7 linked regions of the Homo sapiens genome follow. The protein of the gene in region 6 purifies or fractionates together with the protein of the main gene of each other region. This does not show direct contact. Each region holds a gene or a part of one and is shown on either strand. Other genes may lie near its edges.

Evidence for each region.
Region 1: the proteins of CHAF1B (region 6) and DEDD purify together in Homo sapiens (affinity purification with mass spectrometry; one large-scale study listed by BioGRID and IntAct). This does not show direct contact.
Region 2: the proteins of CHAF1B (region 6) and SCAI purify together in Homo sapiens (affinity purification with mass spectrometry, with the first as the bait; one large-scale study listed by BioGRID). This does not show direct contact.
Region 3: the proteins of CHAF1B (region 6) and ADNP2 purify together in Homo sapiens (affinity purification with mass spectrometry, with the first as the bait; one large-scale study listed by BioGRID). This does not show direct contact.
Region 4: the proteins of CHAF1B (region 6) and SMARCA1 purify together in Homo sapiens (affinity purification with mass spectrometry, with the first as the bait; one large-scale study listed by BioGRID). This does not show direct contact.
Region 5: the proteins of CHAF1B (region 6) and BRMS1L purify together in Homo sapiens (affinity purification with mass spectrometry, with the first as the bait; one large-scale study listed by BioGRID). This does not show direct contact.
Region 7: the proteins of CHAF1B (region 6) and LIN9 purify together in Homo sapiens (affinity purification with mass spectrometry, with the first as the bait; one large-scale study listed by BioGRID). This does not show direct contact.

The regions. Positions count from the first base shown.
Region 1 is NC_000001.11:161,129,868-161,133,966, reverse strand, and holds the start of DEDD (death effector domain-containing protein), read left to right. Parts: upstream 1-1,299; 5' UTR 1,300-1,416; intron 1,417-1,520; exon of another isoform or gene 1,521-1,576; intron 1,577-3,119; 5' UTR 3,120-3,152; intron 3,153-4,099. UniProt on the Homo sapiens protein: A scaffold protein that directs CASP3 to certain substrates and facilitates their ordered degradation during apoptosis. May also play a role in mediating CASP3 cleavage of KRT18. Regulates degradation of intermediate filaments during apoptosis.
Region 2 is NC_000009.12:125,000,529-125,004,028, reverse strand, and holds part of SCAI (protein SCAI), read left to right. Parts: intron 1-458; coding exon 459-560; intron 561-813; coding exon 814-915; intron 916-1,985; coding exon 1,986-2,064; intron 2,065-3,500. UniProt on the Homo sapiens protein: Tumor suppressor which functions to suppress MRTFA-induced SRF transcriptional activity. May function in the RHOA-DIAPH1 signal transduction pathway and regulate cell migration through transcriptional regulation of ITGB1.
Region 3 is NC_000018.10:80,126,262-80,129,761, forward strand, and holds part of ADNP2 (activity-dependent neuroprotector homeobox protein 2), read left to right. Parts: intron 1-3,500. UniProt on the Homo sapiens protein: May be involved in transcriptional regulation. May play a role in neuronal function; perhaps involved in protection of brain tissues from oxidative stress. May be involved in erythroid differentiation.
Region 4 is NC_000023.11:129,516,991-129,520,490, reverse strand, and holds part of SMARCA1 (SWI/SNF-related matrix-associated actin-dependent regulator of chromatin subfamily A member 1), read left to right. Parts: intron 1-1,843; exon of another isoform or gene 1,844-1,915; intron 1,916-2,043; coding exon 2,044-2,130; intron 2,131-3,500.
Region 5 is NC_000014.9:35,860,838-35,864,337, forward strand, and holds part of BRMS1L (breast cancer metastasis-suppressor 1-like protein), read left to right. Parts: intron 1-1,752; coding exon 1,753-1,849; intron 1,850-3,032; coding exon 3,033-3,116; intron 3,117-3,500. UniProt on the Homo sapiens protein: Involved in the histone deacetylase (HDAC1)-dependent transcriptional repression activity. When overexpressed in lung cancer cell line that lacks p53/TP53 expression, inhibits cell growth.
Region 6 is NC_000021.9:36,405,892-36,409,391, reverse strand, and holds part of CHAF1B (chromatin assembly factor 1 subunit B), read right to left. Parts: intron 632-3,500; coding exon 562-631; intron 19-561; coding exon 1-18. UniProt on the Homo sapiens protein: Acts as a component of the histone chaperone complex chromatin assembly factor 1 (CAF-1), which assembles histone octamers onto DNA during replication and repair.
Region 7 is NC_000001.11:226,288,665-226,292,164, forward strand, and holds part of LIN9 (protein lin-9 homolog), read right to left. Parts: intron 1-3,500. UniProt on the Homo sapiens protein: Acts as a tumor suppressor. Inhibits DNA synthesis. Its ability to inhibit oncogenic transformation is mediated through its association with RB1. Plays a role in the expression of genes required for the G1/S transition.

The sequences.
Region 1 (4,099 bases), on a different chromosome or scaffold from region 6:
TACAGGTGTGAGTCACCATGCCCGGCCCTGATGTATATATTTTAGTTAGCATTTTACTATATCTCTGTTACACTAAACGCTTTCACCAGTTTCCTTGATAGTTCTCTATGGTTTTCTTCTTTCCTTTCGGTTTGCCCCTTCTCAGTGTTCTTTTCGGCTTCCCTCATCCTATCCCGCAAATGCAGGTATCCTCTCCAGCCCACTTCATGGCTTCAACAGCTATCTATATGCACACGCACACACACCTCAAACCTTTCTTTTGAGTTCCCAACCCACATTAGCTAATATCCCAGGGGCACCTAAAACTCATTATCTCCCCCCTAAACGAGAAAGAAACTGGTATCATTATTCCCCAGTTGTCCAAGTCACAACATTCGTACCTCTTAAACCAATCTGTATCTCCCCATCCGCACTCTCCCTTCCACAGGCAGACCATCATCATCCTTGCCTGGAAAAGAGCCTCACAACTGCTCTCCTTGATTCTCCTCAATTCATTCATCCTTCACACTGCACGCAGCGATCTAAAATGCAAATGAAATTGTTCACACCTCTGCTGAGATTCTTCAAAGACTTTTCATTGCCTTAAGGATAAAAATCAATTAATTTACAAGGCTTCGCATAATCTGGTCTTCCCCTATCTATTACCACTTTCTTAAGCCACACCAGAACGTACCCGCACCATCCTCCCCACCCCCAATTCCCAACAGCCCTACACGGATCAGCTAGGCGACACTTCCTACAGGAAACCGGCGTTCAAAAGGTAAATGCTGAACAAATGAATTCCGAGACGGGATCTGGGCACCACTTTCGGCTCCGGATCCGGGTTTACGGAACGTCCGGGTTATCAGGAAGCTCAGAGGAAAGGTGAAATCCAGATCTTGACCCTTCACTCAAGTTCGCCAGACAAACCGATCCCCGTGGTATTCCGCCCTTATGAGTCATGGCTGCCAATCCCAGCCTTCCAGTGGGTCTTGAAGTCGCCACCAGCCAGCTGTGGCGCCACCAATGTTTCCCATTCAAGAATGCTATCCTCTTCGATCCCTTATTACCGCCCTAAGCAGCCGTCAAGACAAACCGGCGTTGCCAGCTTGCCCCAAAGCAAGATGGCTGCCAATCTCTATCTCTCCTCCCGAAGTGAAGCTATCCACTCCCCGATTAATGCCGCTGCCAGGCTGCCCTCACTTACTATGGCTACTCCGGCTCATGTCTCACTATGGCCTCGAAGCCGCCACTAACCGGCCGGGTTCCGGGAGGCGCCGTTCAGGATGCAGCCACCCCCGCCCGCCTGTCCCCTCCCCCACGGCCGCGGCGGCGGCGGCGGCGGCGGCTGCTGGAGCCCGGATGCGGCGCCGTGAGGCAGGCCCGGGAGAGCGGCGCGGATGGATCCAACATGGCGGCGCCGAGCCTGAGCCGAGAGTGAGGCGGAGGGGCGGCCGGAGTGGGGAGAGGGAGTCGAGCGGGACGGGGCGGGGCCGGGCGGGGCCGCAAAGGGCTTGGGGAAGGAAAGTGGAGGGGGAGGCGGTGGCGACGTCCAGCCTGAGAACCTCAAGAGAGGGAGGTGACGGGACGCTGAGAGGTGGGGGAGGGGAGCTGCCGAGGGGGGCGTGCAGGGGAGATGGCAACTGCGGGAGAGGGCAGGGGTCGAGACGGAGGAGTGAGGGCATGGGGAGGGGCGTAAACAAGGGCTGAGACTGGGCCCAGCCAGGGGTATTAGAGAGGCCGAGGTGGGGAGTGGGGCTGCGATCCGCTCGTATTGAAGGGGGTAGGAGCAGGAGGGAGAGGCTGAGGGTGTGAAGGGGAAGGGGGCTGTGGCATGTGGTTGGAGGGAGGACTGGACTCTGATGAGGGGTGTTGCGAGGAGGTGGGTAAAGGTCAGAATTGGAGTTAAGACGTTTCTGGGGGGCTTCGAAAGTGTTAAATTGGAGGTGGGAGGGGGAAGGGCCTAGGGGAGAATTTGGGTGGAAAAGGAGAGAACGGAGGCTTGGGGAATGGAGAGAGTGTCGGTGGGAGGAGGTAATGGAGAAAGTGAGAGACTGGGAGGAAGAAAGTTTGGGAGGAAGGGGAGTGGAATGGGAGATAGGACAGTGGAGCTGCACGGGTGATAGAGGTTCGGGGGTTTCCCTTTCCCCGGTGGAGAGGAGGAGAGAACAGAGTTAAGCAGCATCAGTTGCAGCCAATTCTAATTGCCAGGCCCTTAGCTTTTAAGAGGGTGGGAAGGGCAGAAGGGAATGGTCATGTGGGTTTGCAGAATTGGGGTTGGATGAGAATTCAACTGGGTTTGTTTTCCAAAAGACTCCCTAGCTTACTGTTCCCTTGTTTTTCCTGCTTGGGAAAATGGGGAAGCCGGTGTCGCCCAAGTGTGGAGGAGCAAAGGACTTTTCTAGTTTTTAGCATTAGCAATACAAGAGTGGGGGAGCAGACATGGCTATATTGGAACCCTATATGCTAAGGTGGAGGCTCTGGAAGTCTGAGGAGGGAAAGAGAAAAGATAGAGTGGCATCTAGACAGGTTAATTAAATGAGTGCTGTAGTTTCCAGACCCTTTTGCTGTTTTAAGTCTGGAAGGGAGGGGGTAACATGGATACTGTATGTAGAAAAACTTTTCCCTGGTGAAACATAGACGTATGAGTGGATGCTGCGCCATTAGATATTTTGTTCTCATTGTGTGCTAGTTAAGGGAAAGGGCCAAATGTAGAATTTGGAGGATAGTGCTGGTCTGCTGTAACCACTTTCCTCCCAGTTTTTTCTAAAGGTGAAAGTTAACGTTAATATTGTAACAAAATAGGAATAAGGAATTGTGGAGGAAGATGAGAAGCTGCCAGAGGGTAATTGGTTTTCCCAGAAGTTCTTAAATTTGGGAGCTGTCTTGCCGCAAGCCATTGAGACTGGAAATTCTTGGAGTTGGTATTGTTTTTGTAAATTGACTAATAGAGAGTTAGGGAAGCCTGGAGACTTGTTGGGGGTGAGTTCTCTAAATGGTTTTAGGCTTGTCTGTGTACTTTTGCAACGAGATTGTCTAATTCTATGGGCCTCTGAGGTTTCAAAGTAAAACTTGAAAATTAATTATTTTCCCCTCCTTATTTGTTTTTGTTTTGCTGCTGGCTGTGAAACTTGTGCTAGGAAGAGACCTGGGAAATTAAGTTTCTTGCGGAGGTAAGTCTGGAACTTTTTTATTGTTTTCAAACAATGGAAGGGAATGGAAATAGCATGGGAGTTATTTTGAGGTTGGGTCCATTAATGAGGAGGAGAATGCCAGGGAAAATGAGTTATCATTCATCCATCTGAGTGCATGAGATCTGTTGTAATCACTGTCTTTAGTTAATTGGAGATAGGAGGTGAAAGAGAAGGAGATTTAGATGTCTTGGGACAATCCCCCAGCTTTGGTTTGTTATTGTCTAGTCTTCTTGGTCAGCTCTGAAACATTTTTTTTTTTTAACATATGGAAGGCTGTATTCTAGTACATTGTCTACTAAATGTTGCCCTTGGAGGGTTGCTGGGACACCTTCCTTCCGTGGGAAACTTTTCCTCTAACTTTCTCTTTCAGCTGTTGGGGGGTTCCTGGCATCCTTCTTTTGAAAACATACTATGTAATTCTGACTTCCAGATATTTGATTACATTTCCTATCCCACCAGCAAGAATGTACTCTTAACCATCTTTAAGATTTTCTATGTAGTTTTAATTTAAGTTTCAAGATACCACTTTTTTTTGTAGTTCTTCTGCATGACTTTTCCTCTGAGGACTTCTGAGAGAGTCAGATATCTCTTAATTCTATGAAATTACAAATATCATCCCTGTTCAGAAAAGATGACTGTCATTTTCATTTCAAGACAGCACTCTTTTTTATTTCTTTCATGTCGCTTTCCCCTAAGGGCTTCTGAGAGAGCCAAGTACCTCAAAAACTACAGATATTCCTGGTTGGGATGAGACCAGACTTTGCTTGGAAGTAGAAACATAGTAGAGAAGGACCAATCAGGAGGAAATCCTGAAGATACCTATAGACTGTTGGCCCTTGGCTGACTTGGACTTCTCTAAAGAAAAAAGCAAAACTCCAGGAAATACAACAATTCCTCAGAATCAATTATTCTTGGGAAACTGTAGG
Region 2 (3,500 bases), on a different chromosome or scaffold from region 6:
AATTTTTGTATTTTTAGTAGAGATGGGGTTTCACCATGTTGGCCAGGCTGGTCTCGAACTCCTGACCTCAGGTGATCCACCTGCCTTGGCCTCCCAAAGTGCTGGGATTATAGGCGTGAGTCACCATGCATGGCCCCCTGTGTTTCTGTAACTACTTAAAAAAACAAAACCTGAGGAAGTTTATTGATTAGTAAACATGTATATGGCTGGAGAGGTATGTGAAAAAGCAAATATAAAAAATGCTTATTATAGGATCTAGATGATGAACATATGGATGTCACTGTAGAATTCTTCCAGTCTTTCCATCGCTTGAAAATTTCTGTAACGAAATATTAGAGAAAAAGGTACCCAAAGCCCTGAAGTACATGTGAAAGTCACAACTAGTAACGTGATAAAAGTCTTTAAAGTCTGCGTGTTGCATTAAGGCTAGGTTGTGTTTGTTTTTTTTTTTCTTGCAGGTTAAGTTCAGTGAACTAACTGTTGACATGTTCCGGATGTTACAAGCTCTGGAAAGGGAGCCAATGAATTTAGCTTCCCAGATGAATAAACCAGGAATGCAGGTAATCTCCTCTTTTACATTTGCAAGTTTGGTAACCCTCTGGCTGCGTCTCTCCTGTTGGAACGCTGATTATTCAACAGATACTACAGCCTTGAATAAAGAATTCACTTGATGAGACATGGAGAAATAGATCATCACAGTAAGACTGAGTGTGAAAATAAGACTTCCTTGATAAGGGCTAGTGAAAATAGATATTGATAATTCATTTGTCAAATGCAGCTTTTATGTATAATGTTTTCTGTGTGTAAATATAGGAATCAGCTGACAAGCCTACTAGACGAGAAAACCCCCACAAGTATCTGCTCTACAAACCAACCTTCAGCCAGCTATATACCTTCTTAGCAGCGTCTTTTAAGGTATGTGTGATCCAGTACTTTTTACTATGAGGTGAAAGTGTGCCCTAACTAAAATCTAAGAGTCACTCTTTTGAAAAAATACTTAAGAGTTTAGGTAAAATATAAAAATGAAAAACTGCCTTTAGAGTAATGATCCTGATAATAGATATTTTTGTTTTGTTTTGTTTCTTTTTTTTTTTTTGTACTCCTGGTAAGCTGTGAAATAGCTGTTTGGGAATGAAAATTGCTTATGATGTTGTGATTATTCCCATCATTAATTAATGATAATAGTGGTTCTCCTTCCTCCAGTTTTTTATTACTCAATGATTTTAGGTGTAACAATGCAGAATTGGCCAGGCGTGGTGGCTCACTCCTGTAATCCCAGCACTTTGGGAGGCCAAGCCAGGTGGATCACCTGAGGTCGGGAGTTCAAGAACAGCTTGACCAACATGGAGAAACCCCATCTCTACTAAAAGAATACAAAATTAGCCGGGTGTGGTGGCACATGCCTGTAATCCCAGCTGCTTGGGAGGCTGAGGAAGGAGAATTACTTGAACCCGGGAGGCGGAGGCTGCGGTGAGCCGAGATCGCGCCATTGCACTCCAACCTGGGCAACAAGAGTGAAACTCTGTTTCAAAAAAAAAAACAGACTAAAAAACAAAAGCAGAGTGTCTAGGCTTCTTATATAGTCAAGGAGCTCTATGAAACATTTAGATCATCTGAAAGAACTGTGAGAAATAGGAGAATTCTTCCCAAAGTCTATGTAGAGAAAGCCACAGAAGGGACTTTGTCTTGTAGCCATGTAGTCAGGATCTTTACTTCTCCATTCAAGTTTTCGGAGAATATTCTCCAAATGATGGGGTTTTTGAAGCAGAGAATGTCTTTGCAACTTTTGACAATATAGATTAATAATGAATCTCTGCCGTGTGTATAGTTTTAAAGTCAGGACCAAGAAGAGCGTTTCTTCTCTTGGAAAAGACAACAGTGCATTCTTATTTATTTCACAACTTTAAGATGTCATGAACTTTAAATAAAACCATGTTGTTTATCCTTGTTTGTTGTTTTGTGTATGTGATTTTCTTTCATTTCAGGAGCTGCCTGCCAATAGCGTGCTTCTGATTTACCTGTCGGCCACTGGCGTTTTCCCCACAGGTCGTTCTGATAGTGAAGGTACAATAAAGGAATGCTCCCTGTTGTGAGCAGGGCTTGAATTCTCTTTATTTTCTACAAGACGATGGCCCGTAGCCCACAGACCATCTCAGCCTTTCTAGACAGACTTCCAAATTTGAAACCTGGTCTATTTGTTGATTGATAATTTTGTAGATACCCCAGTCTGTCATATTTTCTGAAATGTTATATGTCAAAGCCCATAAATCATCAGAAAATTCATATATTAAATGCTTGCTTCACTATCAAATGTATCAAAAGCATAATATGTAAATACATTTAGATATACATAAGGAGTTTGGTGTTTCAAAGTTGAAAAGGATGATGGAATAACCAAGCGTAATGATCTATTTCACATCATTGAATTTTTCTGAGCTTTCAGTGCATTGGGGAATCCGGTCAATGGCTACATGATGGCTGAAAGTCTTTGTAGAAATCAGTGTACTTTCGTAACTGTGAAAGTTCAAGCCCTTGTCATGATTTTGTTTTCTGTCCTTTATTTTGTTTTATGGATTCAATCTGTAGAATATCGGGATGCTGTTTCAGAATAAAAACGTAACACTGTCCAGAACATACCAGTCCAGAAATTGGTCAGAATAGATAAGTAACTTGGATGTAAATAAGATAATTAAATATTTGCCTGGGCAAAATAAAAAAATAAAAAAATTCTTAACATCCTTAACATTTTCCTCTTCATTTGTTTGTTGAAATTTGCATTCCTTTATAAAATGCATGTCCTTGCCATCTTCCTTGCATGACCTCCAGATTCTCTTAAAATGTTGAAATGAAAACAAATCTCTTTAGCCTTTTCATTGCAGTGATTTTTTTAAGAAGTGAAATATAATACAACATTAAAAGTAATGTAAAATCTTAAACTACTTTAGTTTTTTGTAATAATGTTAGTACTTTTATTTATAATTATCTGTATGTCTCATATACTGTTAAATCAAGTTTTCTTGGTTTCCGCTTAACATACTGACTTCTTTACTTTTTTCAAAGTATGATAGGTAATCGTACTTTGATAGGTCCTTTGAGAGAGATTATCTGAACATCCCACAGTTGCTGTTCCATTTGGACAAGAGTTTAGCTAATTCATATGAATTTAGTGGGAAAAGGCTAACTTCAGAACCAGAACTAAAGTGCTTGATACAATAGTGATAATAATGGATATTTGCACGCTGAAATCTGGCAATACATTCTTAAAGGTGAAGTTTTTGTGAATGAGAATTTTCAAATTCTATTCAAATATTTTTCTAAGTTTTACAGTTAGTGGCTCATTTAAAATTGTATTTACTTATGAGACTAAGATTTCATTCTTTAAAAAAAAAAAAGCTTATTTTATTCTGCAACTTCTTTTTTTTTTTCTGAGACAGGGTCTCACTCTGTCATGCAGACTGGAGTGCAATGGTGTGATCATAGTTCACTGCAGCCTGGGAATA
Region 3 (3,500 bases), on a different chromosome or scaffold from region 6:
TGTTATACATTTTTTCTTCCACATGTTAGAAATCTTACAATATGTTGTTACTTTTATTTTAAACTGTAAAAAAGAAAAAAATTATATTGATCTACATGTCATTGATGATAGTCTTCATCCCTTTGCGTAGATGTGTATTTCCATCTCGAGTCATTTCCTCTGCCTCCTGAAGGACTTCATATTTTGTAGTGCTGATGTGCTTAATTAACTCACTATACTTTCTCTCTAAAAAAAAGTTGTCTTTTAGGAAGGAAGAGATTTTTGCTAGGTGTGGAATGCTATTTTTTTCCCCTTTTTATATTTTAAAGATTTCACTCTTGTCTTCTGGCTGGCATTTTTTCCAACAATATGTTTTCTGTCATTTTTGTTCCTCTCTGTATTTTTAATACTTTGACTATAATGTGCCTTGGTTTGGTTTTCTTTGTGTGTCTTTTGCTTAGAGTCTGGTGAGCTTCTTGATTTTGTGGGTTTATAGTTCTCATCAGATTTGGAAAATTTTGTGGCATCATTTCTTCAACTAGTTTTTCTTCCCCTCACCCGTTTGTCCCTGATACTCAATTACACACACAGTAGTTCCCCCGTATCCTCAGTTTTGCTCTCCACAGTCAACCACGGTTTGAAAATATTATATGGAAAATTCCAGAAATAAACAATTCATCTGTTTTAAGTTCCATGGCATTCTGAGTTGTCTTCATCTTGTCACGTGAGGCGCCACACAGGCATCGTGTCATCGCATGCCACCACAAGAAGGGTGAGCACAGGATGTAAGATACTTTGAGAGACCACATTCACAAAACTTTTATTACTGTATATTGTTACAATTGTTCTAGTTTATTATTGTTGTTAATATCTTCGTGTACCAACTTCCTGTACCAAATCTAATTTATAAGTTGTATTTTATTGTAGGTATGTCTGTATAGGAAAAAACGTAGTATATGTAGCGTTTGGCACTGTCCACAGTGTCAGCATCCACTGGGGTCTTGGAACATGTCCTTTGCAGATAAGGGGGGACTCCTGTATATTAGGCTCCTTGATACTGTCCCATAGCTCATTGATGCCGTTGTTGGGGTTTTTTCAGTTTTTTTTTTTTTTTTTTTTTAACCATTCCCTCTTTCATTTTGTGTATTTCTCTTGCTTTATCTTCAGATTTACCAGTCTTTTCTTCGGCAGCATCTAATCTGCTCTTAATCCCATGCAGTATATTTTTCATGTTAGTGCATTTTTCATTCATGGAAGTGCAATTTACCATCCATCTTTCACTTTCTTTCACTTCTCTCGTTGCGTTCATGTTGTTCTCCTGGTTTGGGGTCATATTTTTCTGCTGCTTTGTATGACTGGAAGTTTTTGTTTTTTGTTTTTTGACTGGCAGTTTTTGACTACACACTGGACATTGTGTTTATGGGTGCTAGAGTTTGTTGTTTCCTTTAAATATATTTGGGCTTTGTTCTAGAACATGTTTAAGACACTTGGAATTTTTAAGCATTGCTAGAGTGGGTCTGGAGAGCCTGGGACTGTGGAGACAGACCTTGCTGTGAAGGCTTGACTTATGTCACTGTATTAAGGGGTCATTCCCCTCTCCCGGTGGACTCTGGCATTTTGATAGTTGTTTTACCTTCTCCTTTCACTAGTTCCCACTAGTGAGCCAGTAGAAAAGTCCCACTGGTTTTCTCACACATGAGAGCCTCAGTGCTCAGAAAAAGTCTTCAGGAGACCCTGTGCAAATTTATCACAAGGTCAATATGGCAGGATGCCCCTTTTTAATAGTAGCTTACTTCTTTTGTCTATTTTGAAATAGTGAATTCTTGCTTTCTATCAGGTGATAATGACTTCATAATTACTGTGGGGCTCTTGTTAATTCCAGCCTTCTTTATTCATTTCTGCTGCTCTAGCAGCATCTTTTAATTGGGCTTAGATTCTTGTGTGTGCTGGTTTTGAAGATGTACTGACAGTTCCTTTGTGTTTCCTAGTGTTTATGCTTATTTCTGTTTGTTTCAGATATGTTTGCTCTTTGTTGGAATCAGAATAAAGGACCTGTGTGTTGTATACTTTATCTTTTAAGATAGTTCTGAAAATAACCTAATTTTCAGTAGAAATCTTTGTAATAACTTGGCCAGGTGCGGTGGCTCATACCTGTAACCCCAGCACTTTGGGAGGCCGAGGTGGATGGATCACGAGGTCAGGAGATTGAGACCAGCCTGGCCAACATGGTGAAACCCCGTCTCTACTAAAAATACAAAAATTAGCCCGACGTGGTGGCATGTGCCTGTAGTCCCAGCTAGTGGGGAGGCTTAGGCAGGAGAATTGGTTGAACACGGGAGGTGGAGGCGGCAGTGAGCCGAGATTGCACCACTGCACTCCAGCCTGGGCGACAGAGCAAGACCCCGTCTCAAAAAAAGAAATAAATAAATAAAAATAAAGAAATATTTGTAATAACTTGTCTTTTTCTTGTTAGTTCTGAATTGACTTGGTAAGCTACATACTAGCGTAGAGTTAAAGGTAATTGTATTAACTATTTTTCTGTAGCTTTTTTTTTAAAGTAATCATTGTTATAAAAATAATACTGTAATCTATGAATGTTTGAAAATGCAGGTAACCGTTTCTAATTAGAAAATGAAATTTAAAATGCCACATTTCTGTCATTCAGAAGTTGCCACCATTAACATCGTATTGTTAGCTGTTTCTGTGTGTTTATTGTTCTTACCATGAGATTGTATTGATTAGCTATTTTACCACTTGCTTTTTTCACTTTTCTCTGTTCTGTCTTGTCATGTATTACATATTCACCTTATTTAATATGCAGTCCATACTCAGATTTCTTCAGTTTTACCCAGAACTTTTTTTTTGTTTTTTTTTTTTTTTTGAGATGGGGTCTCGCTCTGTCTTCCAGGCTGCAGTGCAGTGGTGAGATCTCGGCTCACTGCAAGCTCTGCCTCCCTGGTTCAAGCAATTCTCCTGCCTCAGCCTCCCATGTAGCTGGGATTACGAGCACCCGCCACCACGCCCAGCTAGTTTTTGTATTTTTAGTAGAGATGGGGTTTCACCATGTGGCCAGGCTGGTCTCAAACTCCAGACCTCAGATGATCCAGCCACCTCAGCCTCCCAAAGTGCTGGGATTACAAGTGTGAGCCACCACACCCGACCCCCAGAACATTTTTTACACTCGGTTTATGTAAGCCAGGATTTGTTGTGGACCCTGTTACATCTAGTGGTTGGGTTTGCAGTGCTTTCCCTGACTGTTGGCCAGACCAGCCTCTTGTCCTGCAGAGATGCCCCTCCTTCCAGATGTGTCTGGTACTTTCTTATAGTGTTGTTTCAGCTTAGTCCCCTGTCCCCTGAGCTTCTTTTAAATGAGAAGTTCTACTGAAAGGCCCAGTTGATTCAAGTTAAACATTTTGGGCTAGAATATATATGATGTTCTATGCTTCTTGTGTCACTTCAGGGACCCCAGTCATATTTTGTTGCTTCAATACAATAGATGGCAGTCTGGTCTTTGTGTGCAT
Region 4 (3,500 bases), on a different chromosome or scaffold from region 6:
TGAATGAGAGCGCTTTCATGATGAATACAGTAGATGAGAATTAGTGAATTGACCTGTGACATTTACCTACTCAAAGGTGTTTTTGCTTACTTTCTGGTTGTTGAATTTAGTTGGTTTAAGTGACGGTTGGATTACCCAACACTGTAGACATGAAAACGTCAAGAAAAAGGTCATGGTCTTTAAAACAAGCCATTTTGTTGACCTTGTGCTGCATTCTCATGGCACCTAGACTCAGATAACAAAATCCAAAGGAATTCATTAGAGTCTCTTAGTCACTTTTCATCTTTTCTTGTATGAAAAAAATGTAGTTTTGAGAATACACACACACACACACACACACACACACACACACGAGAGAAGGTTTAGAAGGTAGGTATTTTAAAATTTGTTGTGGAAGATAGTGCCAATTAAGTAATTACCCACAGCTTTTAATAGCCCTGCTCAAGATTAGGATTTTAATTAGCATATAATTAGATTTTGATGGTAGTCTACCGCAAGGTAAGCAAAAAAGTAATGGGTAAAATGTTTTTCTAGGATTAAAGCTTTAATTTTCTGTAAGTGTACTTCCCACATTATTATATATATTTGTGCGTATGAGGCAAAGTAATTTTCATTGTTTTGATACTGGAAAACTGCACTTCATATAACCTTTCAAGGAATGAATGATAAACGTATGGATTTGATACCCAATTTTTCTTGTTGCTTTGAAAATAAATATGATTTATATTATATATGGCAGTCTGAAAGTGTGAGTTTGAGGGGCTCTTTAGCAGTTTTCTATTCTCATCCATCCAGGATTACATTCAAAACATTCCATATAGATGTGTACGTATCAGATGCTGTAAATCAAGATGGTTATTATTTGGGTTAGTGTAACTGAATGATATCTGATCAGTGCTACAAAGTAAGAGTCTGGACAAGGTCAAATTCCATAATCTCAGTTTGGATTTCCTCAAAATAGAAATTTTAGTAAATATTGGAAGACATAATGGGGGCCATATTTTTCTTATGTTTAAGGTCACATTCTGTTGATTTTTGACCTAAGTTTTCATAAATAGGTTGACAAAAGCCATGATAGTTTTCACGAACAAATTTGTGTTTTCTCTTATGCAAAGTATGTGTTAAAACTGAAATGCTCTCATCTTTGGTTCTGGTGGGTAGATTTGTGTTTTTATTATTTTATTTCTTGGTTTCTTATAGGGAAGGAGGCTTATTCTATATATGTATTTATATTTGCCAGTACAGGCTTGTCTTTACAAAGGATAGGGTGCATGAGATAACCCCCTTCCCCAGATAATCTCTATATTAAGTTATTGATTGATGTTAGTTTTCGCTAAATTACAATTTAAAAATATCAAACATTAATAGTTAAGTAGCCTTGACAAATTGCTTCTACAAGATGTTTATGCAATATAAATAGTTTAAAGTAGTTTTCTTCCCAGTTAGAGAAAATTAACATAAGCCAAAAGTTTAAAACTGTACTATTATATTAAGTATATGTGATCACATTGCATTACATAAAAAATTAAATATTCTTATAATACTATGAAAACAATTTTAAAAATATCGTTTTAGGAACAGAAACCACAGTTTTTTTTTCTGAAAGTGTGGCGTATTTCCATGACATAAAGGAGTGTTTCTTAGAATTAATATTTACTTTCTTTGAATTATTTGGTTTGTGGTTGATATTAGCCTTTTCTAGATTTTAAAATCTCTTATTTAATGTTTACACATTTTCTTACACTATAAATTAAAGAATGGATGAGAAAGCTCAGTGTCTTGCCTTTTGGGTTTTATTCCAATTAATATTTCTTTGGCATTCACAATTTTTCAGATTTTTTTTATTGGACCTCAGGTGTACAGAACTGGATTAATCATAAGCCTTGTTTTGTGACATGCTCTCATCATTGGTCCATACATGTCCCACATTGATTTATATATTTAGTTATGTAATTACTTTCCGCCTTCTTCTAATGAGAGCATTGACCAGTTTAAGAACCTTGCTTTGCAATTTGGTGACATTTATTTTCTTTGAAATTCTAGAAAAACGTTTCTTCATTTCAACTCAAACTTGCTGCTAAAGCGCCTAAATCTGAAAAGGAAATGGACCCAGAATATGAAGAGAAAATGGTAAATGTAGTCTTGGATAGGATAGTGAATGCTGTAATTAATTTTTATAGTTGAGATGTTAAAGATGAAAAAATACATGTATATATATAATGCATAGAGAATCATTGATTTTAGAATTGGAAAATAATTTAATATACAATCTATCACAATATTTTCTGTTGAATAAATTAACCTCCTCATTTTCAGATGAGGAAATAAAGGATCAGGGAAGCTATATGTCATAGTTAGGACTAGAAGTCACATCTCATTTTGGTTCGGTGCTCTCTGTCCCATAATAAAGTGCTTTAAGCTAGAAATATTTATTTATGAGGTGAAAATATCAGTGGTAATACCACTGTGGCTTTGTGACCTGAGAGAAATCCAGTCACAAAGCCAGATTGACGTATTTTTGTTTCTTTCTCCTTCTTTGGACATATGAATAAATGCTACACATTAATGAAATGTGTAATATGTCAATACACTTTAAAGGGAAGAATATTTGTCCAATGCATGAAGATATCACATATTTAAGCAGCATAATCTTAGTTATACTTACATATTGCTTGCTATAATACATTTAATTATTTAATTTTTAGTTACTAAAATACATATTTTAGCTTTAATTTTAACTAAACTCTTATAACCTTGGATCTTTCAAGAATTTAACAGGTGGTTGAAATGGATTTTTTTTTCCTCTGAGGGGTTGTTTTTGCAGTAATATTATAAAAATAAGTATAGATGAAATATATTTTTTGGTTGTTGATAGCTATTTTATAAGACTTAATGTTTAAGGCCACATCTAATGTAGGTAGGCAATGTTTTAACAACTCTAAAAATAACATTCCAGTGAGGATAATATAAAATGGAAAGTTTTTGGCCTCCTTCCAGCTTGTAGTCTGAATTTATCTAACTCTTATGTTTATGTTAATGAACTCTTCTGTAAGTTTTCTGGGTTATTAATTATGCATCCTTCATTAGCAATCAAGTATTCTCTACTCTGTGGTTGGAAAGTGACTTTGAATAAATAAATAGTCTTTATTTTTTCCTTTATCTAGAATGATGTATATATCTTTTGATCTTTTAAGATTTTTTTAGTGAAACAAAGTTTTATTGCCTGTATATGGTACACGTTCCCTGACCTTTTACAATTTATTGAGAAATTAGAATACATATCAACTTTTAATAGTTAATAAACTATTTCACATATATGTGCATATGTTTATATATTTTTCCCAAATTCTGCTTACTTTGGGGAGAAAGTTTATACGCTACTAGCACAAAATACAGTTTTCTAGATCCCTGTGAGTGAAGAGAGGAGTGTTTATTACATTACTATACCATGACACTGAAAATATTTTGAGACAAGATGATACTGTATTTTAAGATTTAAG
Region 5 (3,500 bases), on a different chromosome or scaffold from region 6:
GGGTTATTAGTGAGCAGGATCAGTAAGTCTAGATGTGAAGACTAGAGGGATGTGGGATCTTGAGACCAAACCTATACTTATGAGTAGTATTTTTTTAAAAACCAAAGTAACTATTGAACATAGAAAACTCCACAGCCACCAAAGCAAGAGAGTTAGCCCCCTTCTTTTCCAGGTATCTTCTAGCTGTTCCATTAGGGCTTCATTTTCCATTCAGGGGAGGTTTTTGAGTGTCTTGAGAAGCTGGAGAAAAGGGAGAGAACTTTCCAAGAAAAAGAAAGAGAAATAAGAATGAGAATGGATTCATGGCAGTTTAAAGTATACTTCTGATATTTTTAGAGATGCCTTCAATGCTTCAAACATTTCAGTTTCATTGTGGCTTTTTAAAAAATAATAAAGAATGATTAGTGGATTTTTAAAAGAATTTCTGCTTGGCCTAATTTGTCAATAGGAAGAAAAGAGAATACACCAATTAAATGTTCATATCCTTAACAGCAAAAGGCTTATCACTCCAGCTCTGTATTTAGAGTCATCTTTGGTTGGGGAGATTGGATCTATTTATAGCTGCTACCACGGTCTTGTGGAGGGGAACTGCTCTCCCTTTTTCTCTGATATTTTCCGAGTTTTGCAGCACAATATAGATAAAGCTGGAATATTTCATAAGACTTTACTAAAGGCAAGGGAACAAGCAAAAGGAAGTAAGCAGAGAGAACAGCATGCAATGAAACCATGTTTGATATGAAATCTAGTTTTAGTTTTCAGCTTTGCTTTCTCCTTAGCACCTGGCTTGCCTCAAGTTTGTAAGCCATCTTTTCCCTGACACTCAGGAAACCCTTCAAGCATGTATAATTTCTAAATTTCAGACTCAAGAGAGAGGGCTTCATGATTGACACCAGGAATGCAGCCTACATGGGTGTGGCCTGTGTTTTCTACATGTAGTCATATCCAACTATATCCCAATAGCTTCCGCAAGACAGTCATATCTGCTATATCCAATTATCTAATATCCTTCACTAGAGGTAAACATGTGGCCATAGGTTTTTTTGTGTAATTGATCTTTATATATTATGTACATTTTATGGCTTTTTAAATTAGGGCTACAGTATTATATAATTAAAAACATGGACTAGAGCTAGTAGACCTGGGTTCTAGTCTATTTGCCAGTCTTGTATGTTGTAGCAATTCAATCTGTCTATGGTTTTGTAGAAAGATTTGGATATGATTAGTCTGTAATTTTATAATTTAGACTATAATTGAATTATTTTAAATAATCATAAAATTTGTACTTGAATCTTTCTCTTTGCCTATTTTAATATGATGCTGAGATATTAGTGAGGCATAATGACCCAATTATTATTCCTGTGAGAAAATATGATCCATTTTATAATGATATACTTTATAGGATAAGTTTTCCATGATGGTGACAGATGGGACCTACTTAAATTTAAAAGGGGCCATAGGGGTTTGCTATGAGTTTTTTATAAAGTAAATATTTACCTCTAAATGTACATCAGACATAATTTAGATGCTCTTATACAGAATGTAATTGCATGTAGTTAAATCTATATATAGATTCTATATTTTCTAGTTTTATTTCTTTCATGTATTTGACATTTCTTCTTTAGAATTTTTAATTGAATTGAAAAAGCAAACCAAAGCATCATATATTAAAGTACTTTAAGTTATTTGGTACTCTTAGTTAAGATACACCAATTTTTTTCTTTCTACTTAAGTATAATCTGTTTTTCTCCCCAGAGCGAAAAGCTGTTGCTATATGATACAGTCCAGAGTGAACTAGAGGAGAAGATAAGAAGGCTTGAAGAGGATAGGCACAGCATTGATATTACCTCAGGTAAGGAGAATGATATGATTGTGATGTTTGAGTGGCACCAGACCTTTGGTTTACTGTAGTGTCATATCGTATCTCAGTCTTCTAATATTAATATTATGTAAATGAAATGTCCCAGCAAAGGAGAAAAGGGGAAGAACTCTAAAGTGATGGTGATTATATTGTTATTGTTATTTGAATTCACACTTTAGAAAGATGTAAAAAATGGAGCACACGACAAGGGACGAAACAGAAGTATGACAGGAACCTACTGGCAGAATAGTGTCAGGGCTGGATGTGGTGCTGCACATCTATATCTACAGTCCCAGCTATGCAGGAGACTGAGGCGGAAGCATCCTTTGATCCCAGGAGTTCGAGATTGCAATTGCAGTGAGCCATGATGGCGCCACTGCACTCCAGACTGGGCAATCTTGTCTCCAAAAAAAAAAAGAATAGTATTGGAAATTAGCTATAGTATATGTTTTTCCTTGTAAGTCTTGAAAGACTGTTATGTGGAAGAAGGAATGAAAACCTTTTTGACATCATACAAGGTAGGACAAACTGATAGAAGTTATAGGGAGGTAGATTTTTGTTTCAGAAAAAGGAATAACTTATTAATGATTAGATCAGTCCAGTGTGAAATTGGCTTTTTCAGGGTGTTACAGAAAGGTTTTTTGCATTGAGTGGAAGGTCTACTAGGTTATCCTACAGTTCTTGAGTATATATTACTTTATCTGTTATAAAGTTTAGTTCTCTATAGGGTAGGCATGGTGGAGTCAGATAAGCTGAGCTCTAGTGCCAGTGCTCCCTCACCTACTAGTCTGGTGACCATGGACAGTTACTTCACTTTTCTAAATCAATCTCCTTGTCTGTAAAAGGAAAGTAATAAGAATACCTACCTCAGTGGTAGCTTTGGGGATTAGGTGAGACAATGCATGTAATATACATTTTACAAAGTGCATGACAATATGGTAATCAGTTCTTAGTCATGAAGTGCCAAATTGATTTTTGCTTTAATAAAGGCAGAGCAAAACTTAAACACGTAGTGCTCATGAAATTATGTACAGCTTAATCTATATATACCCAGCTGCCAATGAAGTTTTTTACGTTTTTACATGTAACTAAATAGCCACCATAAAATTAGAGTCTTTTTTCCTCCTTTGTTCACCAGAAACCCACTAATACTTAATCTTTATTTACCTGCCAGAGCTGTGGAATGATGAGCTTCAGTCAAGAAAAAAGAGGAAGGATCCTTTCAGTCCTGACAAAAAGAAGCCAGTTGTTGTTTCAGATATCCTTTTCCAAATTTTCTGTTTTTTTTTCCTTGATGTGCGTTTTTCCATTGTGCATGCCTTTATAACTTTTATTTGTAAACACTGACTTTATTTGCATGATCCTGTAATAAGCAAAAGATGATTTATTTATAAAACCGATTGAAGACAGAGGATATAGTGTATACTTTAGGTCAGGAGAGGTGGCAGAGGAGAAGAAATTCAATCATGATCTCAACTTTGAAAATTAATGTGACTTGTCGTTCACCAAGGGCTTTGATGTGAAACAGTCGTTTAGTATACAGTATGATTGTTTAATTCTCATGTGTACTTTTTTTTTCTTTTTGAGACAGGGTCTCACTGTGCCACCTAGGCTGGAGTGCAGTGGCACAATCATGGCTCAC
Region 6 (3,500 bases):
GGAAGATGAGCGATGGGCCTAATGGATTAATTGCAGTGTTAGGAAAAGGCACTGTGACTAAGCAAAAGCAAAAATAAAAGGTAAACATTTTGGCAGGGCGCGGTGGCTCACACCTATAAACCCAGCACTTTGGGAGGAGGAGGCAGGCGGATCACCTGAGGTCAGGAGTTCAAGACCAGCCTGGCCAACATGACGAAACCCCATCTCTACTAAAAAAAAAAAAAAAAAAAAAATACAAGCCGGGTGCAATGACTCATGCCTGTATTCCCAGCACTTTGGGAGGCCGAGGCAAGCGGACCACTTGAGGTCAGCAGTTTGAAACCAACCTGGCCAACATGGTGCAACCCCATCTCTACTAAAAATACAAAAATTAACTAGGAGTGGTGGCGGGCACCTGTAATCCCACCTACTCAAGAGGCTGAGGCAGGAGAATCACTTGAACCCGGGAGGCAGAGGTTGCAGTGAGCAGAGATCGCACCATTGCACTCCAGCCTGGGCAACAAGAGCGAAACTCCGTCTAAAAAAAATGTAAACATTTCAAACATTTCCTTGACTGCATACCTTTTAAGATTCTTCCTGGAGAAAACATAAGTGGTATTCATTACATTTTCACCAGATTCCACACATCCAGCTGGGGAACAGGGAAGGGAGGGAGAGGAAAGAAAAGTCACTGTTTCAGCAAACTGTTCACCAACAGAAACTCAAGAGCCTTCAGGTCCGGTTTGCAAAATACTTCCCCCTGCAGTTATATTCTCTGGACAATGTTGTGACAGAGCACAAAAACATATATTCCGGCACTGTCTGTTCTCAGCCCTTACTCCAGTTCTACCTACCTGTCATCTCCACCTACCTGTGGGCAATCCCCGGGGACCTGGTTCTGATCTTGGGCGAGGAGAACATAGTGAGCCTTTGCCATAGGGCACCGTTGAGCCTCCAGGCAATTCCTCGATTGAAGCACCGTGACTAGATTCAGCTGCCCAGGCTCCTTTCTCCCTAGGACCCTCATCTCTATTTCCTGGATTCCAGCCTTGGATGCCATCCAAAGGCTGAGACTCGCCTTTCCCCAACTTCCCTATCCAGCCATGAGGCTGCCAGGAGACCTTGCCCTCTGCTGAAACCTCCAGCCTCCTTCAGAACCTGACTTCACTCTGGGGAACAGTCCCCATCTGAGAGCTCTTCTACACTCACCCCCTGCTGTACTTAAAACAGTTCAGCCCTGTCAGAGTGACCATCATACACTGCTGCTCTTGGAAACATCTCCCTGTTTTATGCTATTTCTTGATACATATACACACACGTAACTTTACATATGACTGTTTCATATCCACCAGGGAGGGCAGTAGACAGTATCAATAGTCTTTTTTATTATTATTATTAATACATTCTACATAGCTGCCCTCTTTTTTTTTTCTTTGAGATGGAGTCTTGCTCTGTCACCCAGGCTGGAGTGCGATGGCGTGATCTTGGCTCACTGCAACCTCCACCTCCCAGATTCAAGCAATTCCCCTGCCTCAGCCTCCTGAGTAGCCGGGATTACAGGCACCTGCCACGATGCCCGGCTAATTTTTGTATTTTTAGTAGAGAGGGGGTTTCACCATGTTGGCCAGGGTGGTCTCGAACTCCTGACCTCAAGTGATCTGCCCTCCTCCGCCTCCCAAAGTGCTGGGATTACAGGCGTGAGTCACTGCACCCAGGCCCCTCTTTTCATCCCACTCCATTCTTCCATCCCCAAGAAATCCATTTTAACATTCAACAAACCATTATGTCATCTGTATATTTCCTCCATGCTCACATAATCATTACAATCAGTTATAACTCAATCACATGTATACCTCTATGATATTTTTTATTGAGTCCATTTGTTTTACAAAACTGACACTTCTCCTTATTTTGCTTGTTTCAATCAACTACTCATGAAAGTTAACTTGCATAGCACTGATGCATTATTTTTTTGTAGCTGCATAATATTTACTGCAAGATTCATTCACCCAGCCTCTGTTAATGAGTATTTTTTTGGCTTTTGGTTTTTTACCACTATAAACAATGCTTGCAATAAGCATCCTTGAACATATACTTTTTTTTTTTTTTTTTAGACAGAGTCTCACTCTGTTGCCCAGGCTAGAGTGCAGTGGTGCGATCTTGGCTCACTGCAACCTCTGCCTCCTGGGTTGGAGCGATTCTCCTGCCTCAGGCTCTTGAGTAGCTGGGATTACAGGTGTGCATCACCATGCCCGGCTAATTTTTGTATTTTTAGTAGAGACAGGGTTTTGCCATGTTGGCCAGGCTGGTCTTGAACTCCAGACCTCAGGTGATCCACCCACCTTGGCCTCCCAGAGTGCTGGGATTACAGGCTTGAGCCACCATGCCCAGCCAGTTTCCAGTCTTAATTGGGTCTTCTCCATTCCTAGAATGTCCTCCTATATTTCCTTACAAGAGTTTTCTATTTTTACCTTTTGTGTTTAAGTACTGAATTCACCTGGAATTTATTTTTTACATCTAGGCAAGGGGTCCAATTTTACCTTCTTCCACATAGCTGGCTACCCCAGCACTACTCATTCAATAATAGAGTCCTCCCTTTGCAAGATCCATCTCTTGTACAACATGGTGATTATGGTTCATAACAATGTATTATATTCCTGAAAAATGCTAAGAGATATAAAGCGTTCAAACCACAGAAATCCTAATTATGTGAGACCATGCTATGCTAATTAGCTAGATTTAGTCATTCCACAACATATATATACTTCAAAACATCATGTCATACACAACTACATACAATTTCATCTGTCAATTAAAAAAAAAAGGAGGCCAGGTGCAGTGGCTCACGCCTGTAATCCCAGCACTTTGGGAGGCTGAGGCGGGTGGATCACCTGAGATCAGAAGTTTGAGACCACCCTGGCCAACATGGTAAAACCTCATCTCTACTAAAAATACAAAAATTAGCTGGGCATGGTGGCCGGCGCCTGTAATCCCAGCTACTTGGGAGGCTGAGGCAGAAGAATCACTTGAACTCAGGAGATGGAGGTTGCAGTGAGCCAAGATCACGCCAATGCTCTCAAGCCTGGGCGACAAGGGTGAAACCCTCTCAAAAAAAAGAGGAATAGGTCTTTGTCCAATCTCAACACTTCCCAACCTTCTTAATGACATACTCTTGTCCTATCTGCCTTCAGTGTCTAATTCTCTTGAGAATTATTTAAGTAACATACAATTAATTACAAATAAATAATAGATTTTTTTCCACTGGAACAGCACCTGAGGTCATATATTAAATCGCCTTATATCCTGAGATCTTTTTCTGGATTCTGTGTTCTGGTCCACTAATCTATTTGTTTGGTCCTATAGCAACACCATATTGATTGGCTAAAAGTAGTGTTATAGGATCTTCTGATATGTGGTGAGGCAAATGCCCTCCCAAGTATCACTGTTTTTTTTTTAATACTTCTTTGGCTATTCTTCAGCATTTATTCTACTAAACAAAGCTGAGATTTCATCCAATTAAA
Region 7 (3,500 bases), on a different chromosome or scaffold from region 6:
CAGCACAAAAATGGACATAAACAAAAAAATTAAATATGTAGGAATATACTTACGAAACATGCAAGACTGATATGGAAAAAAATTAAGTCTACTGTGAAATACTATGAACTAAGTGGAACTACAATCAGTTCTTAGGTAGTCTCAATGTTACCTATATATATCATTTCCCATAAATTATAATATTAGTCCAATCCCAGTCAAAATGCCAACAGGATTTTTTTTTCCTAGTCAAGTTGATTCTAAAGTCTACATGGAAAAATAAATGCACAAAAATATTTAGGAAAAAATCTTATGCTGGGCGCAGTGGCTCACGCCTGTAATCCCAGCACTTTGGGAGACCGAGATGGGCGGATCACAAGGTCAGGAGCTCCAGACAGCCAGGCCAATATAGTGAAACCCCATCTCTACTAAAAATACAAAAATTAGCCGGGCGTGGTGGCTGTGCCTGTAGTGCCAGCTACTCAGGAGGCTGAGGCAGAAGACTAGCTTGAACCTGGGAGGCGGAGGTTGCAGTGAGCAGAGATCACACCACTGCACTCCAGCCTGGGCGACAGAGTGAGACTCCATGTCAAAAAAAAAGAAAGAAAAGGAAAAAAATCTCAAAAAAAGAATATGTGATAATATCTTACCAGGCATTAAAACACAGTATAAAGTCATGTTAAACCAATTTTGTGTGTGTGTGTGTGTGTGTGTTTTGGTTTTGTTTGTTCTTTTGAGACAGGGTCTCTCTCTCTGTCACTTAGGCTGAAGTGCAGTGGTGCAAACATTGCTCACTACAGCCTTGACCTCCTGGGCTCAAGCCATCCTCCCACCTGAACCTCCCAAGTAGCTGGGACTGCAGGCATGTGCCACCACACTGGGCTAATTCATGCATTTTTTGTGGAGACGGGCTCTCGCTATGTTACCAGGTTGGTCCCAAACTCCTGGGCTCAAGCGATCTTCCTGCCTCAGCCTCCCAAAGAGCTAGGATTACAGGTATGAGCTGCCATGCCCAGCCAAAATAATTTGATACTAGCACATATAGAGATATGCTAGATGTAGAGATAGAAAGCCTGAAAGTAATCCCAAATACTTATACGAATTTAGCTTTGATGAAGGCAGCATTTTAAATCAATGTTTAAAAAGATGGATTACCCAATAAATGTTACTAGGACAACTAAGTAGTCCTCCGGGGGGGGGGGTGGGGGGGGGTGGGAAAGCTAGGTTGCAATTTTACTTCATCCCTTACTGCAAAATAAATTCCAGATGTACTGAAGGTTCAAACCAAAAAAATGAAATATGAGAGAATTCTAAAATGATAAATTTTAGTGTAGAAAAGGTCTTTCTGAGCATGACAAACTCAAGAAGTCATTAAAAGGTAACAAAGTTACATTTGATCCTTAAAATATTTTAAAATCCCATATGTTAAAAAATACAGAAACAAATCAAAAGACAAACTATAAACTCTAAAAAAAATTACAGCCATTATAAACATCCAAAGGGCCAATATTTTTAATATATACAAAATTCTTATAAACTAGTAACACAATGACCCACAATCCAATAGAAAAATGGGAAAAAGGCATAAACAGTTTACAGAAAAGGAAAGAAATAATTTTTAAACATATGAAAAGTGTCTCAACTTTGCTCTTATATAAAATGCCAACTAAAACAAGTGAGAGGCTATTTCTTTTTTTTTTTTTTTTCTTTTTTTTGAGATGGAGTCTCGCTCTGTTGCCCAGGCTGGAGTGCAGTGGCACGATCTCGGCTCACTGCAAGCTCCACCTCCCGGGTTCACGCCATTCTCCTGTCTCAGCCTCCCGAGTAGCTGGGACTACAGGCGCCCGCCACCACGCCCGGCTAATTTTTTGTATTTTTTGTAGAGACGGGGTTTCACCGTGTTAGCCAGGGTGGTCTTGATCTCCTGACCTCGTGATCCGCCCACCTCGGCCTCCCAAAGTGCTGGGATTACAGGCGTAAGCCACCGCACCCGGCCAAGGCTATTTCTATATATCAGATTAGCAAAAATCTAGATGGTTGGTTCTGTACTGAGTTGGAGGCATTTGGAAAATAGGAACTCTAATATATATAAACCAGTACAATTTCTTTCCTTTTTTTAAAAAAATTTTTTAACACAGCGTCTTGCTCTGTCACCTAGGCTGCAGCATACTGACACGATCGCGGCTCACTGCAGCCTTCGCCTCCCAGGTTCAACCTATTCTCATGCCTCAGCCTCCCGAGTAGCTGGGACTACAGGCACGTGCCGCCACACCTGGCTAATTTTTCTATTTTTAGTAGAGATGGGGTTTTGCCATGTTGGCCAGGCTGGTCTTGAACTCCTGACCTCAGGTGATCTGCCCACCTCGGCCTCCCAAAGTGCTGCTATTACAGGTGTGAGCCACTGTGCATGGTCCCAGTTCAATTTATTCGGAGAGTATTTGGTACTGCTTTAAAAACTTTAAATGTACATAATTTACGATCCAGCAATTCCACATCTTAGGCATCTGTCCTAGAAAAAAACTTGCAAATTTATACAAACATGCTCAGGATGTTCACTGCAGCATTATTTGTCAAAGTAAAAATTTACGAACAATTTAAATGCTCCCAAATGGGAGAATTTATAAATAATGATATAAAATTGAATACTATTCAATAGTAAAAAGAAATGAAACACTGAATCCGATTATCTCAATCAATCAACATGGCCAGATCTCAAAAAAAGACAGTGAAAAAATTACAGAATGACACATGGCACAATACCATGAAAATGATACTACAAATGTAATTTTTAGAATACATACATTTAGAAAAAGAAAAAATATATATACATTTAACAATATTAAATATTTTCTATGAATACATTAAAAGTATATTTAAAAGGTTTCATAAGGATAATCAAACTAATTATAGTGGCTGCCACTGTATGAGGGAAGTACATATTGGAATGGTAAGTTAGGGTCAAAATTTTAAAATTTTTATTATAAACTTTGTATTTTGGAAAAGTTGTAGATTTACAGGCAAGTTGCAAAGATAGTACATATTCCCACATGCCCTTCACCTGGCTTTCCCTAACATCAATATCTTATAGTAACTTTGGTATATTTGTCAAAACTAGTGCAATACTATTAACTAAACTACAGGCTTTATTTGGATTTTACCAGTTTTTTCACCAACATCCTTTTTCTGTTCCAGAAACCAATTCAGGATACCACACTGCATTTAGAAAAATAACTTTGTTTTTCTTTGTTTTCCCTCAGTGACCATTCTCAGGAGAAAAAAAAAAATTAAATGTAAAAAGAAGAAAAAAGAAAAAATTTATAAGTGAGGAGATGTTTAGCATAAATAACCAAATTACTATAAAATATTCTTATCACAAAAAGTGTTATTTCTTTCTACTACATTATTGACCCAGATTTTTAAATAGGGTATATAGGGTATTAGCAGCTCATCGAATATAAAACTATATTAAGGACCCGCCTGTTGGGTATGGGAAAATAGATTCAAATTGTTAGAGGGAATCT